Regions from separate parts of the Homo sapiens genome. Here region 2 is linked to region 1. Evidence: fine-mapped expression QTL. A gene starts in region 1. The other region holds a variant in brackets. All regions are shown on one strand. Distances are between the middles of the regions.

Evidence for each region. PIP is the estimated chance that this variant, and not a neighbour inherited with it, causes the effect. A credible set is the group of variants that fine-mapping cannot tell apart.
Region 2: its variant is the best candidate, but not a certain one, in a credible set for the expression of ZBED4 in neutrophils (Naranbhai 2015, PIP 0.67).

The regions. Positions count from the first base shown.
Region 1 is chr22:49,850,882-49,856,250 of GRCh38, forward strand. It overlaps ZBED4 (zinc finger BED-type containing 4), which reads left to right and starts at 2,963. Exons shown (of 2, transcript NM_014838.3): 1 at 2,963-3,108. LOC105377205 (a long non-coding RNA gene) reads right to left here and starts at 2,631. Exons shown (of 5, transcript NR_188597.1): 1 at 1,555-2,631; 2 at 201-326. It overlaps LOC124905147 (a long non-coding RNA gene), which reads right to left. Exons shown (of 2, transcript XR_007068156.1): 2 at 3,621-4,405. RefSeq lists silencers at 2,311-2,400, 2,421-3,150, 3,321-3,610.
Region 2 is chr22:49,889,825-49,895,193 of GRCh38, forward strand. It overlaps ZBED4 (zinc finger BED-type containing 4), which reads left to right. Exons shown (of 2, transcript NM_014838.3): 2 at 1-256. It also overlaps a transcript of ALG12 not described here. Among named protein-coding and RNA genes, the nearest start is that of ALG12, 26 kb to the right of the region's middle. The variant CA/C (reference allele first, on the strand shown) is at 2,363.

The DNA of each region.
Region 1 (5,369 bases):
TGCGGAGCATCCCTGACTCGCACTGCCCTGTACAGGTGGGGCTCACAGTCTGTGCATGGAACTCAGATAAAACACCTGGCCCTGGGATGTCACACTTTGGTTCAGATGAATGAAAAAATAAGATACTGACACTCTGGATGACTAAGAATCGACTTATGTCTTTCCCGTGATGGGAAACTGTCCCATGAAAAGCCACTTACATGTTTGGATGGTCCTGTAGAAAATATTTTTTCTTCTCCTTATCGCAGTCTCTATGATGCATAAGAATGCAATTTAAGACAAACAGCAAATAAATACCATCTGTGTATGTACCAAGCACTTGCAGACTGAAAAAAAAAAAAGAAAAAGAAAAAATAAGATATTGTATCTTGGGCACACAGAAAGTGCCCATCAAAGATTAAATGAATGGACTGCAGCTGGTGGAGGCATGGGGTACTGGCTTGCCGAAACAGTCCCAGTTGATGCTGGGTCCTGGCCCCATGATGTCTAGTGTGCCCTTCCATGCTCCAGGGTGCCCCATTTGGGCACTTAGTCCAAGGGCCACCCGACATACAAAACAGTATCTTCCTGTGAGGGGCCAGAGAATAGGCCGCACCTGGCTGCCCTGCACAATTTGGAAGGCACTAGGAGGGACCTGTCAACCTGCACTCACTCACTCACCGGCAGGCCCCTTTGGGAAGAGCTGTTGCTCTTTGGCCCCAGGAATCTTCTATTTCTGCACATGAGTGCCAGGCAATTGTGGGGCCCCATTAACCTACTCCACAAAGCGTAGGGGGCCTTGCTCTCGGCACTGGGCATGCTCCCTCAGCACATACAACAAAGAAGTCCCCCCTCCCACTGATTCTAGCAGGAGGCTGTTGGGGGGCAGTCATGACACAGGCATATACAGTGTGTCAGATGTGTCAGAGCCCGGAGAGGGGATGAGGAGAGCGCAGTGTTACTTCCTAGAGCATGGCCCCGGAGAGCCTCCCACTATGCTGACATATGGGCAGCCGTCTGGGAGCTTGACACTGGCAGAGGGGAAGAGCAGTCCAGGCAGACAAGAAGTCAGTGCGAAGACCCCAAAGCAAGCATCAAGGAGGCTGGGGGCTGCTGCAGATCTGATGAGGGGATGGCAGGGGCAGAGCAGGCCTGAGAACACTGGCCTCCACTCTGAATGAAACAGGGATCCCCAGGCCGGGCACGGTGGCTCATGCCTGTAATCCCAGCACTTTGGGAGGCCAAGGCGGGCGGATCACAAGATCAGGAGATCGAGACCATCCTGGTCAACATGGTGAAACCCCATCTCTACTAAAAATACATAAATTAGCTGGGCGTGGTGGCGAGCGCCTGTAGTCTCAGCTACTCTGGAGGCTGAGGCAGGAGAATCGCTTGAACCCGGGAGGCGGAGGTTGCAGTGAGCCGAGATCACGCTACCGCACTCCAGCCTGGGGACAGAGCGAGACTCTGTCTCAGAAAGAAAAAAAAAAGAAAAAGAAAGAAACAGGGAGCCCTTTTTGGGTGTCAGTGCCTGGTCTCAACTCCATAGCTATGGTGGAAGGTAAAGCAGTTTACCTTTTAACTACATGAACAAGCATGGTGGTGTTCCAGTTGAACTCCTTAGGAAACCGACATTTTAATTTAATTTTTTTTTGGAGACGGAGTCTTGCTCTGTCACCCAGACTGGAGTGCAGTGGCGCGATCTCGGCTCACTGCAACCTCTGCCTCCCGGGTTCAAGCGATTCTTCTGCCTCAGTCTCCCGAGTATCTGGGATTACAGGAGCCCACCACCACGTCTGGCTAATTTTTTATTTTTTTTCAGTAGAGACGGGGTTTCTCCATGTTGGCCAGGCTGGTCTCGAACTCCTGATCTCAGGTGATCCACCCGCCTCGGCCTCCCAAAGTGCAGGGATTACAGGCGTGAGCCACCGTGCCCGGCCGATATTTGAATGTCATATACTTTTCATATATGCTAAAATACTGTTTTAATTCTCCCCCAACCTCTTAAAAACGAGAAAAGCATTCTTAGCTCAGGCACCATAGAAAACCCGGCTGCAGGCTGGACGTGGACTTTGGAACAGTCGGCGTGCGGGTGAAGGGGCACAGCCGCGGGGCAGGGGCGGGCTCCGGGCAGAGGCGGCCGTGATAACTCCACGCTCCCGCTCCAGCCGGTGACCGCCACGCGGGCTCCTCTCACTCTCACACTCAGGCCGAGAAAATGCCGAAAGCCGTGTCACCAACGGGGGACCTCGGGGCCACATTCAGCATGCAGAGTTTATTTGGTCTGCTCAAACATTTGTGTTAGGAAATAACACATTAAAAGTGCACATTTCCTTCAGACCCTGAGAAGCGGGCGAGTCCCGTGCGCTCCGCACCGCCAGCCCCGGCCCCGCGCTCGCCCAGAGGGCCGCCCTCCTCCCGCCGACCCGGCTTGGGGCTTAGGCGTTAATCCCGTCCCCCGGGGGGGCCGCGCGGGGAGCCCCGATCGCCTTAGGGTCAACGGCTTAGGTCCCAGCCCACGAGGCCTGACCGCACCGCACTGAGCGGCCTCTGCGCCAGGTAAGGGGGTTCGGGGCGGGACCGGGAACCGCGCTGCTAGCCGTCCCGGAAACCCGCGGTGGGCCGTTGGGTGCGCGCCGAGCCGCTGCCAACTGCCAAGCCACGGGACGAAACCAAGGCGCCCGCGCCCCGCCCAGCCAGAGCGCCTAAGCCCTTCCCGTCGCCCGCCAGCGCCGGAGCGCCCACTGCGCCTGCGTAGTTTGCCCTCCTGGACCCGGGGGCGGAGCCGAAGCGCGCATTGCGCCTGCGTCTTCCGCCCGACCCCGCCCCAGCGGCCGGGCCTCCGGCGCTCCGTCCTCCCGCCCGGCCAGGGACGAGGCGGGGCGGGTACGCGGACACTGCGCCTGCGAGAGTAGGCCCCGCCCCCGATCGGCCCCGCCCCCGGCCAGCCCCGCCCCGCGCCGCGCGGGGCCCTGGGAGGGGCGCAGCGTCCGGCGGCGTCGCGGGCGGCGGGCGGCGGGGCCGCGGGAGGGGCGCGGGGGCAGACAAAGCCGCGGTAATGAATGGAGCGTCCGCCCGCGCCGCCGTCGTCCGCAGCCGGCCGGGAGCCGCCCCAGAGGCCGGGCCGAGGTGAGTGCGCGGGCGCCGCCGCCCCGCCGCCTGCCGCGAGCCCCGTCCCCCGCGGACCGCGCCGGGGCCGGGCCGGGCCGCGCCATTGTCTGCGCCGCGCCGGGGCCAGGGCCGGGGCCAGGCGGGCGGGGGCGCGGTTCCGTGGCCTCGGGGTCCCCGCCCGGCGCCGCCCCGGACCCGCCCCCGCGCGGACCCCGGCCCTGACAGCTGGCGCGGGGGCGGCGCCGACTGAGCGGCCGAGTGCCGGGGGTCGGCGCCCGGCCTGGCCCACGTGCCCGCGCCGTTGCTTCCGGGCGGACGGGACGGGGCTCGGGCTCGGGGCGCCGCCCGGGTCCGCCGGGAGCGCGCTGTCCCGGCCACGTCGAGTTAACCCCGCGAGCCCCGTCCCTGGGACTTCTCTGGACGTGTCATTCCCGTCCCACCTCCAGGAAGGGCCACCTGGGCCCTGCTTCATGTCTCAGCCCAGACGGGTCCTTGCGACGCGCCCCGAGGCAGGTTATTGTACGTGGTTCTGGGGATGACCGTTCACATTTAATGAATAAAAATGTAACTTGCCTTGCGAACCATAATTTCAAATGTTTTTCGACTGCAGTGGTTTTCCTACACCCAAATGAGCTCGCAGTCAGTTTTGTTTCTTCTTTTGTCCCGTTGTGTGGCCCACACCGCCTTCGTTGCTAAGAGAATCGCAGCCCCTCGGGCTCCCTTCTGCGCCTTTCTATTCCGGGTGGCCCTGGTAGACCCGGGCACCTCTGTGGAAACACGTCCCGGCCAAGCTGAGCCGTCAGAAGCTTCTGTTGGTGTTCTCGTGTTGGTCGAAAGGGAAGTTATTTATTTTGAAGTTAACTCTGATCAGATTACGTTTTTAGAAATCCATTCAGACCTCATAGTGAGGCCAGTTTGGTAAAGCAAGGGCATCCTGCGACTTTTTACACAGAAATGTTTTTTATTTTTTCTGTGTATGTCATTCATAGTGACAAAATTGAGGCTAGGAAGGATTTGGTTGGGATTTTTTTTTAAGTGCTATGAATAAGCCACATTTTGATTATGAATTAATTGCAATTACTAAACAAAGTTACTTTGCAAGAGGAAAGTTTACAGGAGTTTGATTCCATACTCCGAGGGTTTCCAATGGGACGTCCGTACAAGGCTGCACACTTCCCGTAGTCCTTAAACGGATTATATCTGCTTGTCATGATTGGCTTTTTTTCAAGAAAAGATCTAGCACAAGTTAAGAGAGATTCTGTGAATCTTGAAAAAGCTTCAGAGGCCCGGTCTTTGAGGTGAGGACACAGTTAATCTATATGGAAAGAAACCTAAGACTTTTAGTCCACTTGACAGGTGGTTACAGGGTCTCCCCCAACACACACTCTTGTCCAGGTAATTCCTGAATAAGGTGGTTGATGTTGTTGGATGTAAAACCTCTGCTCTTTAAGGTTACCTCCTCCCCAACCCCCTCCACACACACAGTGAGTAACTCAGCTGTGCAAAGTATGTCCATAACACCTTGCAGAAAGACTAAAAAAATTACTAGGGGAGCGGACTGACTTCTGTGTGTGTGCAGAGGAGCTGAGAAGCAGCTTCTTTAGCGAAAGGTGTGTGTGTGTGTGTGTCTCAGATCCTTGGTGAGGAGCCCTGGGGAGTGGACTCCTGGCGGCATGAGGAGCAGGAAGTGACCGTGGTCAGTGCCGTCCTTCACTTTGTTTTGCGTTTTTTTCTTTGCCTGGCTTTAGCTTCTGGTCTCATTCTCTTTGGTGTGGTGGTTGTCTTTTGAGAGGAGGGAGCAGGTGAAACAGCTGGGCGTGGCTTTGCCCAGCCCTGGGGTAGAGGCCAAGCTGGCCCTTCCTTACCAACGTTGTTTCCTTCACTGTTTAAATCTCAGGACCTGAGAATGTACCTATAGGAATTGCTCTTATTTACATTTGGCTGTGTAAGAAAGTCACTGTGCCTTTAGCCCGTGACACCCCTTAGCGGTTTGGTTTTGGCTTTCTCTTTTAGTGTCTGTGGATTCCAGCAGCTCTCTGGCTTCAGCCCTTTCAAGGATTCGGGCCTCTCTGCATCCCAGCCTTCCAGGCCCTTCTGCTCCCCACTTTTTAGCACCTAGGTTTTTCTACATTCTGCAGTACCTCAGATCCCTTCCTTGGTCATCACTGGATATGTGCTTTTGTAGTTCAAATTCTGGGAGGCATTGTTAGGAATAAAATAAGCTCTTTGCCATTTCTGAGGCGGAGGGGAGCAGGAGAGACAGAGGTGCTTGCCTCTCT
Region 2 (5,369 bases), 39 kb after region 1:
CCATTCCCACCTTGCCTCTCCGTTCAGAACCCCAGCTGCGAGCTGTTTGTTTCCCTGCCTGGAAATGATGTTTTAGGCAGGTTCCTTAATTTCTCAGGTCTGTCTCAGATAATAAAAAGCTCTTTGTATGAGCCTCAGAACTGTCTCTTCAGTGAATGAAATTACCAGTCATTATACGAAGGGACTTTAAAAAATTTGTGGAAATACTGAAGTAAAAGATGATAAAAAAATAAAAACTTTATTTCTTGGCTGGGCACAGTGGCTTATGTTTGTAATCCCAGTACTTTGGGAGGCTGAGGTGGGAGGACTGCTTGAGGCCAGGAGTTCAAGAAATTAGCCAGGTTTGGTAGTGCATGCCTGTAGTCCCAGCTACTTGGGAGGCAGAGGGAGGAGGATTACTTGAGCCCAGGAGTTTGAGGTTGCAGTGAGCTGTGATCACACCACTGCACTCTAGCCTGGACAACAGAGCAAGATCCTCTCTCTTAAAACCACCAACAATGACAACAACAAAACAACATTTTTATTTCTCAATGTAAGCTCCATCAAGATCAAGATACTTTTGTAAGCTGTGACACCAGCCATTTAGTCCACCTCTAAAGAATTGCAGGCTCTGGGAATTTAACCATGTCAGTGCAGCCTTTTTAACATTATTAACGGAAGAAAAAATGAGTGCTTTTAAAGATTTTTTAAAATGAGGAAACAAAGTCAGAAGGAGCAAAATCGGGACTGTAAGGTGGATGCCTAATGATTTCCCAACAAAACTCTTGAAGAATTGCCCTTATTTGATGAGAAGAATGAGCCAGGAGCATTGTCATCGTGGAGAAAGACACTGATGAGGCTTTCCTGGGTGTGTTTTTGCTAAAGCTTCGGCTAACTTTCTCAAAACACTCTCATAATAAGATGTTATTGTGGCCAGATGCGGTGGCTCACGCCTGTAATCCCAGCACTTTGGGAGGCTGAGGTGGGCAGATCACGAGGTCAGGAAATCGAGACCATCCTGGCTAACATGGTGAAACCCCGTCCCGTCTCCACTAAAAATACAAAAAATTAGCTGGGCGTGGTGGCAGGCACCTCTAGTCCCAGCTACTCCAGCTACTCGGAAGGCTGAGGCAGGAGAATGGCGTGAACCTGGGAGGCAGAGCTTGCAGCTAGCTGAGATTGTGCCACTGCACTCCAGCCTGGGCGACAGAGCGAGACTCCATCTCAAAAAAAAAAAAAAAATGTTCTTTGGCCCTCCAGAAAGTCAACAAGCAAAATGCATTGAGCATCCCAAGAAACTGTTGCCATGACCTTACTTTGACTTGTCCACATTTGCCTTGACTAGGCCACTTCTACCTCTTGGTAGCCATTGCTTTGATTGTGGTTTGTCTTCAGGATGGTACTGGTAAAGTCCTGTTCCATCTCCTGTTATAATTCAAGGAAATGCTTCAGGGTCTTGATGCCACTTGTTTAAAATTTCCATTGAAAGCTCTGCTCTTGTCTGCAGCTGATCTGGGCACAACGGTTTTGGCACCCATCGAGTGGAAAGCTTGCTCAACTTCAATTTTGAACCAGTTGAGATGTCTGTGGTCTTGGCTATTGTTCTGTTAATCGTCAGTCCTCTTTAATCAGAGCATGAACAAGATCAATATTTTCCTTGCAAATTGATGTGGATGGTCTGCCACTGTGGTCTTCATCTCCAATGTTGTCTTGATCCTTCTTAAAACGAGGTATCTATGTGTATACTGCTGACTTCTTTAGGGCACTGTCCTCATACACTTTTTGTAAAGCATCATGATTTTCACCATTCTTCCACCCAAGGTTCACTATAGATTTGATGCTTGTTTTTGCTTCAGTTTTTGCAGAATTCATGTTCTGCTAGGAGCCCTTTTCAAACTGATTCTTACTGCCTCAAACTAGATCTATTCAGGCATGTTCTAACAAGTTAGTATGAGTTTATTTTGGAGCAAAAGAATTTTGAAATGCATGCATAGTTTTGTCATAATATGCATTTTCCATGAACTTTTTGAAGACCACTCCTGCAATAATAAAACATTGAACTTCATTTAAAGCTAAAATTCCCTTCTCTTCCACTTCTGACTATGAGGCAGCAACTGCTATCAGACCAAACCTTTCCCAAGAACTATCAAGGCCATATAAAATATATTTTTAAAAAGAGCTTTTTGCATCCTGGCTAAAACAGTGAAACCCCGTCTCTACTAAAAATACAAAAAATTAGCTGGGTGTGGTGGTGGGCGTCTGTAGTCCCAGCTACTCTGGAGGCTGAGGCAGGAGAATGGCGTGAACCTGGGAGGCAGAGGTTGCAGTAAGCCGAGATCGTGCCACTGCACTCCAGCCTGGGCGACAGAGCAAGACTCTGTCT[CA/C]AAAAAAAAAAAAAAAAAAAAAAAACTTTTTGAAGACATCAGAGAGTAAGACAGCCAGGATTTGAAGAAACAAAATCCTAGTAAGATGAGACTTGCATAAAGGTGAGTCCTGTGTTCACAACATTTTTTCCTGTTGGGCCATTTGCTGGTGTCCTGCCCTAAGGCCTGACAGAAGGTGGCAACCAGAGCTGGCGTGGTGTCACTGGGCTGGGAGACCGGCAGCAACACACAAGCTGTCATGTTGGCCAGGATGCCAGGAGCCTCAGAGAAGTGGCCGAATTCCCAGTGTGCAGCTTCCCCTGCAGCAGGTGCCTATTCCTGGTTGCTGCTTGTGCTTGAGGCAAGAGGCTTGGAAACCCAAATATAGCAGCAAAAGGCTGGAAAGCTGAGACATCTTTGGGCAAGGGAGACAAAACTTGGGACTTCAGTGCCTGCCATTGAGAAAACTCTGAGGTTTCCAGGTGAGTCCCCTGAAGGGCAAACTGGAGAGGGACCAACCCTCACCAAGTCTGGACATGGCTTGAGCCATCTCAGCCTTGATTGCATCAGGGCGATCTGCCTCACCTTTCTGCTAGAGGAAAACTAAATTTTCTTTCAATGAAAACATCAGAGCTCCTATAACTTTACAGATAAACAGTTTGACTCTCATAAAAAAATTATGAGACACACTGAAAAAAAGGACTAAGTGACTGAAAAGAGAATCATAAGACAATAGAAATAGTCTCACAGGTGATCCAAATACTGGAGTTTTCAGACACGGACTTTATGATTTATACATTCAATAATATGGATGAGAAGGTGGAGAATGCCACCAGAGAGAATCTGTAAACGTGCTAATGCTGAAAAACACAACGATGAATGAAGAATTCCCTAGATGTAGTTAGTACCAAATTAGGCTTATAGATGAAAGGATTACTGAATTGGAAGACAAGCCAGTAGAAAACATTCATCTTGAAGTACAGAGAGATGAAAAGTGCCTGAGAGACACAGCGCAAGAGAAAAGACTAGCACACAGCTGACGGGAGTCCCAGAAGAGGAGAGAGAAGGGGTGGAGCGCCATTTGGATGAGATCACAGCTGAGGACTTTCCAGAACTGTTGGGACATCAGCCATAGGTGTCAATATCTTTGAACCCCAATGAGGATAAATTGAAAATAACAACCTGCACCTAGGCACATCATGGCAAAGTGCTGAAACCCAAAGAGAAAGAGACAACCTTAAGCAGAGGGAGGGAGGAGAGACACTTTTACCTTCAGAGGAGCAATAAAGCTGGCAGCTGACTCTCTAAAACAAATAGTTGGAATGGTGGAGTGGCTTTTTTTAAATGCTGAAAGGAAATAATTACCAATCTAGATTTATATACCCAGTGAGAAGATTCCTCAAAAGTGAGGATGAACTTAAGTTTTTGGACAAAACAAAAAATTGCAGAAACTTGTCACCAGCCAACCAGCCCTAAAATATATCCTGGAGGGAATTCTCCAGGTGGACACTTGATGTGGGAAGGAACAAGGAATACTCCTGAAAGGAGCAGAAACGGGAAAGCTAAATAAATAATAGACTGCCTAAAACTATCTCTTAGAGTTCAAAATACAGGTAGACTTAAGATACATGGACAGTAAGGACAAAAGGTGGGAGGGAAATAAAGGATTGCACCATCCTGCAAGGGGTGAAAGTATGGATTTCAAGTAGATTCTGGGCCAGGTGCAGTGGCTCACACCTGTAATCCCAGCACTTTGGGAGGCCAAGGCAGGCGGATCACCTGAGGTCAGGAATTTGAGACCAGCCTGGCCAACATGATGAAACCCCGTCTTTACTGAAAAAACAAAAAATTAACTGGGCCTGGTGACGCATGCCTGTAATCCCAGCTACTCGGGAGGTTGAGGCACGAGAATTGCTTGAACCCAGGAGGCGGAGGTTGCAGTGAGCCGAGATGGCACCACTGCATTCTAGCCTGGGCGACAGAGCAAGACTTCATCTCAAAAAAAATAATAAAGTAGATTCTGACATCAGACGTGATCTCTAGGGTAACCGCTAAAAGCAATAAACATGTTGATGAAACTGGACTAATACCTACTTTCACTAATCCCAAAGAAGGTAAGAAAGGAAAAATAACCAGATGGGACACATAGGAAACAGAGGCAAATGGTAGCTTTAAACCAAATGTGTCAGCAAGCATATTAAATGTAAGTGGAATGCAAACTCCAATTAAGTGTGTTAGATTGGATAGACAAAACCCAGCTATGTTCATTCACAGGCTTCACATATCGAGTCCAAGGATGCAGAGTGAATGCGAGAGGCCAGAAGCCAGGGCACCACCCACACATCTGCTACAGCTGTTCACATCTGACAGCACGGCCTCAGGCAGGAGGACTCATTAGAGATGGAGGGACAGCTCAGTGACCAAGTGGTGAGGTTAATGGGATGACACAACAATGCTAAACATAAAAGCACCAAAGAACACAACTCCAAAATGTGACTGGAACAGAAAGAACTAAGAGGAGAAATAGACAATCACAGTGAGAGATCTGAACACTTGCCTCAGCAGCAAATAAAGTGAGTGTTGTTCCAGAATGTGTCCTGACTGACCACTCCCTCTGGCCCCAGTGACCATCCTGCCGGACGGCCGTCTCCTCCCTGGTTGAGCAGCCTTGAGCAAGGGTAGCAGTGGGCAGTGTGTGGAGGCCAGAGGCCTCTCACGTCCACCCACCCCAAAGGCACTGCCCTGGGGGACAGCTGAGTGAGGAGAGAGGGAGACACCCTTGAAGCAGGGAGGGGAGAGTTGGAGGGAGTCACATGTGGGAGTGAAGCCCAGGAGGAGGAGGAGGGGCAGGAGCATTGCCGCTGGGGGCAGACAGGCTGATGGAGGGAGAGGGGAGGCTCTGAGCCCCAGGTGACACCATGCTGTACACATTGCTTTACAGCCCATCTTTCTATGTTAGTAAACCCACTTCATTATTTTATAGGGCTCTGTGGCTGTATTCAGTATTTTATCACCATAAAAATTCTC